Regions from separate parts of the Homo sapiens genome. Here region 2 is linked to region 1. Evidence: fine-mapped expression QTL. A gene starts in region 1. The other region holds a variant in brackets. All regions are shown on one strand. Distances are between the middles of the regions.

What was found. PIP is the estimated chance that this variant, and not a neighbour inherited with it, causes the effect.
Region 2: its variant is the best candidate, but not a certain one, in a credible set for the expression of EIF3K in whole blood (INTERVAL, PIP 0.50).

What each region holds. Positions count from the first base shown.
Region 1 is chr19:38,617,563-38,620,574 of GRCh38, forward strand. It overlaps EIF3K (eukaryotic translation initiation factor 3 subunit K), which reads left to right and starts at 1,626. Exons shown (of 8, transcript NM_013234.4): 1 at 1,626-1,765; 2 at 2,775-2,873. The coding sequence starts at 1,707. MAP4K1 (mitogen-activated protein kinase kinase kinase kinase 1) reads right to left here and starts at 391. Exons shown (of 31, transcript NM_001042600.3): 1 at 235-391; 2 at 6-63. The coding sequence starts at 333. RefSeq lists an enhancer at 915-964.
Region 2 is chr19:38,676,458-38,678,957 of GRCh38, forward strand. All of the region lies in intron 1 of ACTN4 (actinin alpha 4), which reads left to right. Among named protein-coding and RNA genes, the nearest start is that of ACTN4, 30 kb to the left of the region's middle. RefSeq lists enhancers at 1,166-1,325, 1,742-2,327, 1,932-1,991. The variant G/A (reference allele first, on the strand shown) is at 1,305.

The DNA.
Region 1 (3,012 bases):
CTCACCAGGCTCCATCTTCACCATCTTCAGTGCCACCAGGTCCCCTGACACCTTGTCTCGAGCCTTGCAAAGGGGAAGTTGGCAGTCAGGCAGGCTCCATTTGCCAGAGTCCCTCCACAGCATCCCTGAGTCAAGGTCAAGAACTGGGACCCCCTCTTGCAGCCTCCTCCCTGCCGAGGGCTTGCCTTAAAGGTCACTGGTTGTAGGGTGTTGGGGACAGAGGGGCTTCCTCACCTTAAAGACTTCCCCATACGTGCCGCCACCCAGCCGCTGTAGCAGGTCATAGTGGTCCCGGGGGTCTCTATTGAAAATGTCAGGGTCCACGACGTCCATCCCTGGGGGCCTGAGCTGGGCCTGCGCCCAGGGGCCAGCAGGGCCTCAGGGCTCAACTTCTGGCACCTCCCTCCGTCCCCAGAAGCCCTGCACCCGCCTTGCCTCCGCGGGCTGTGGCCTCCCCCCTCCTCACTCTCGCTTCCTGCCCCAGCTGCACTGCACGACTGTGCAACGGGCTCCACCCCCCCGTCCCCTGGGCTCTGAGAGCCTCTGAGGGGCAGCTTGTCTTGGGACCCAAGGGACCACCCTCAACCTCCAAGGCCCAGGGCTGGATGTAAATGTGATGCAAATGATCTTAATCGTAACTGGGTTGGAGGGGGGTGCCTTAGAACCCCCGCCCCCGTCTCCTAGGTAGTGTCTAAACCTCTGCTGGGTGCTTGAAGGTTTGGCCACAACCCGAAGGCGGCAGGTCTGCAAAGGGATGGCTATGCAGTGTACATGCCTGTTCACCTGTCACATACATGCACTTGGGTTACCTCCTCTGCACTGCGCAGGCGTGTAGACGTGCATCTGCCTGGATACCTGTGTGCACAGTACACACGTGGATGTACCCAGGACATATACCTCCACATGCATGGCACATAACTGCATTTTGTAGGCCTGCAGTGTACAAAACCTATACATAATATATAATTCATGGCAGTACAAATGGGACGCTCGCCCTCAGCTCCAAGACCGGAACCTAATGGAGACGGGGCGCGATCCGGCGAAGTCCAGGAGCCCTCACCCCAGCCCCTGCCCGGCAGAGCACAGTAGCTTTGTGGGACCCTCCTCCTGGAGCTGGGGACCAAGGGCTGAGACTTGAAACTGGAGAGCTCAGGATCCTGCACCAGGCGCCCAGGCCTGTGGCAAGAGGGACCTCAGAACACCTCCCTCGGAACTTGGCCATGGCCTAAACGTAAGGCTGCTGCGTGCATTCCCGCAGAGCTCCGTGGCCTCATGGCCGCGCGCAATACAACGCGCGCGCACGCCGCCAGAGCTCCGGGTGCTTCCCGGTGAGTTCGCGCGCGCACGCTCCCGCGCTACCGGCACTGGAACTGGGTCTGTGAGGCCCGGGAAAAGCTTAGCCCCGCCCCCTCGCCACGAGAGGCGCCTGCGCACTGGGATCCAGTAAGATTTTTCTCACGCTGTCTGTCCAGCTTGAGTGGCGCGAATGCGCACGCGCCAATTGCGCCTGCGAGGAAGAAGTCACGTGGCAGCCGGAAAGCGTGGCGGCTGCTGCTAGAGCCTTTCCCTTTACCGCACCCAAGGAGCTGGAGCGACAACAACGACGTCGTTTCCGTTTCCACCACCTCTTCCTGTTCCCGTCCTTGAGGACGCCGTGCCGGGTCAGTGTTAGCCTCCAGCCCTGGTTGTGGAAGGCGACAGAAGTCATGGCGATGTTTGAGCAGATGAGAGCCAACGTGGGCAAGTTGCTCAAGGGTATCGACAGGTCTGAGCCCGGTTGGAGGAAGCGCTCTGGCCAAGCGGGGCGGAGGAGAGGGTTTTCCGGAGACAGCAAGGGGTGTTCAGGGTCCTGGGCTTGCCGCGGGGTGGGGTTTCTCTATCCTCCTGGAGGAGGAGATGCTTAAAGAAACGGCACTGAGCTGGGGGTAGTGGCTCACGCCTGTGATCCTAGCACTTTGGGAGGCCGAGGTAGGTGGGTCGCCTGAGCCCAGGAGTTAGAGACCAGCCTGGGCAACAGCCAAACCCCGTCTCTAAAAGAAAGAAACAAAAGCACTGCAAAGGCCTAGAAGCGAGAGAATCTTGGTACCACTCAGTCTCTTCGTAAATTGCCTTAAGGTTTCCTTCTCTGCTCCGCCTCCTTTGAGTGCCTCTTAATCTCTCCCTTCTCTGCTCTATAAGTCATTCATTCTCCACACGTTTACTGAAATAAACTGTCAGTGCTAGGCAATGCTGGGAACCACAGGCGAATCAGACAGCGGCAGATCATGCCTTCACGGTCTGAGTTCCCTTTCCATAAGGGAGACAAACCTGACAGCAGACAGCGATAGCCGGGAGAGATTAGAACTGAAATGGGGGAAGCAAAGGCCAGAGTGTTCAGGTGGACATGGAGGAAGTAGGCAGCGAGGTAGGCAGGAGAGGATGGGGCTGGATCAGGGTGGAGGCCTGAACAGGGGAGGAAGGGGTGAGTAGCAGAGACATTCAGGAGGCCAGGTGTACAAGCTGCAGTGACTGACTGGCTCAGAGGTTGAGGAGGCATCCTAGGGAAGAGCCAGGGCTCCAGTGGAGTTTAGAGCTTAGGCGAGAGGTCTGGGATAAGAATAAGTTTTACTAGAGATTATACTGGACATAATTCACTACCTGGATAGAGCAAGTGGCCAGTGCCAGATTTAGAGGGGAAGGGCGGGAGGAGCAGGTTACAGTGGCCCCTTGCTCCATAAGGTGGCTGGCCTCAGCTTCTGTCTCCTCTGTGCTCACCTATCTTGATTCTCCTTTAGGTACAATCCTGAGAACCTGGCCACCCTGGAGCGCTATGTAGAGACGCAGGCCAAGGAAAATGCCTATGATCTGGAAGCCAACCTGGCTGTCCTGAAGCTGTAAGTGTCTAGCTCTCTGTCTACACTCCCATTGCAGCAACTAGCAGGGTGCCACTCCCAGTACAGGGCAAGGGGGTGGCTGGTAGTATCCTGAACAATGCAGCATCTCTTGGTGTGCAAGACTAGGAAGCCAAGGAAG
Region 2 (2,500 bases), 59 kb after region 1:
ATAGCAGTGTCCTGCGACTGGGCTGGAGACGTGGCTGAGGGAGGCCAGGGGGCCTCAGAGTGCACGGGAGGAGGCTTACAGAGGTCTTTTGCATCCTGCAGAACACCACATGTGTCCTTCCCTCTGGGAAACCTCCCACCCGGGCAGGGCCTCTGGGGCCGGATGTGGAAGGTAAACAGGCTGCCTTTCTGCTCTCTACCACAGACAGGCCCGGAAAGGCCTGAGTAGGAGCTTTTCATCTCAGGAAGCCCTGAGGTCCCACAGCTTCTCCTGAAGCAGCCTCATTGTCCCTTTGTAAGAGCATGACCAGGTGCTCTAGCTCCTGGAGCACCAGTGGAGAACTAGAGTGGCCCAGGTGCTGATGCCAAGTTCGAGCAACAGCTCCTGGCGGGTTTCCCTGCATCCCCCCACTCACTCCCATCTATTCTTCACATAGGGGCCAAAGAACATCCTGCTTGACATCTTGATCAGTGTCCCTTGCCCTCAGGATCAAACCTGCAAGTCCCCAAGGCCCTGCAGGATCTGTTTTCTCCTCTCTGTGCTCCGGGCGCATGCCAGCTGCCTCTCTGCTCCATGCTCATTCCTGCCTCCTGAGGGACTTCACACGGGGCCCTTGCCTCTGCCCCTTTCGCCTCAGCTCGCCACCTACCTCCTCCTCATTCTTCAGATGGCAGTTTATGCTTCACTATTTGTAGGGCCGTCGCACCTGACACCTCCAGCCTAGGTTAGGAGCATGTCCATCACCTCTACTTCTCCTTTTAACTCCAACCATCCTTGGCTCTCCCTCTCGAGGGTCACGAGAGCAGAGAGAGAATCTATTTTGTTCACCACTGTGTCCCTACCATGTGGGACATTGTCAAGGCAAATGTAAGTGTGCACTAAATAAATATGTATTGAATGAATAGATAGCCAAACAGACAGAATGGATCTGCCACAACACAAACAGGATGCTTTTCAAGTGGGCAGAAGATGGAGACATCACTTGTCGAGACACTCAAACAAGTGGCTGGATGGATGAGTGGCAGATCCATTCTGTCTTTCTGCTTGGCTTTAGGAGTAGAGGGATCACCCATGGTCCATCCTCTGAGGACAAGGGTATCATGACCGCCCAGGCCCCACTCACCCCTGCCAGGCTCATTGCATCCCATCTAAAAGTGTGCTCTGGAAGGTCATAAGAAGTCCTCACCTGGGACACTTCTAGGCCCAGTGTTCAGCCAGCTGTCCTGAGTTCTGCATCAGTCCCTGCTAGATATGAAACACAAACAGGATGCGATGCTTTTCTTTTTTTTCTTTTTCTTTTTTGA[G/A]ACGGAGTCTCGCTGTGTTGCCCAGGCTGGAGTGCAGTGGGTGCAACCCCTACCTCCCGGGTTGAAGTGATTCTCCTGCCTCAGCCTCCCAAGTAGCTGGGATTACAGGTGCACACCACCATACCCGGCTAATTTTTGTATTTTTGGTAGAGACAATGTTTCACCATGTTGGCCAGGCTGGTCTCAAACTCCTGGCCTCAAGTCATCTGCCTGTCTCAGCCTCCCAAAGTGCTGGGATTACAGGTGTGAGCCACCGCGCCTGGCCAAACAGGATGCTTTGCAAGTAGGCAGAAGAGGGAGACATCACTGTCCCATGGAGAGGTGGGAAAATCATCGTTAGCACAGGATAATTCATCCTATTTTGTGCTCATGTTTACTGAGCTAGGATTGACCTGTGTCCGGGCAGCAGGGACACAGAGGTGAGTAAGACAAAGAGAAGGCCCTTGCCCTTAAAAATGATACGTGTGGCTAAAACGCTGTAGACCTTTTTGTTTTTTCCTTTTTGAGACTTCCTTTTTATACAGAAATTGCTACCTGCAGGTAAAATTAACTTACATCGTGAAAGCGACAGTAAAGTGTTTCTAGGGATAGCTAAAGACCTAAGAACACAGCCCTGTGGTTTGACTGGCTGGCCACCTTCCTGCAGCTGGGTTTACTATGGTGCTGTGTTCTGGGACAGCCCACTCGTCTCCATTTATTGGGCTGAGCCTCGAGACCTGCAATACCAGGGAAGGAAGGGAAGTCTAGGCTGTCTTTGGTGGCCATTGTTATTTATGGGGCATCGGCAGAGAAGTCAGTACCATGGAAAATCTAGAGAAAGATAGAGGATACGCAGTGTGGTTGAGCAGAATCTGATAGCTCCCTGGCTCTCTCCGGGCCATGGGACCCAGGGCGACACAGCCACCCTTTTTCTCTCTGCTGTCTGGCTTGGGCTTGGGCTTTGTCTCCTGTGTCCCTCCACACCTTCTTCGCTGTCAGTGGTGACCAATCCCGTGGAATCAGCCACTGTGTGTTACCCCAAGTCCTTGCCCCTGGGACCTCGCTCTGTTCGGAGACAAAACCCGGGACTGTTTCTCCTTTTAAATGCAACCTTGTTCCACAGGAGAGGAGAAAAGCAAGAAAGAGGTGGCTTGTTTATCTGATGGTAGTGGGGTGTGCTCTGATATGCCTTTGAAAGGGGCCCAGCTTTGCTTTGC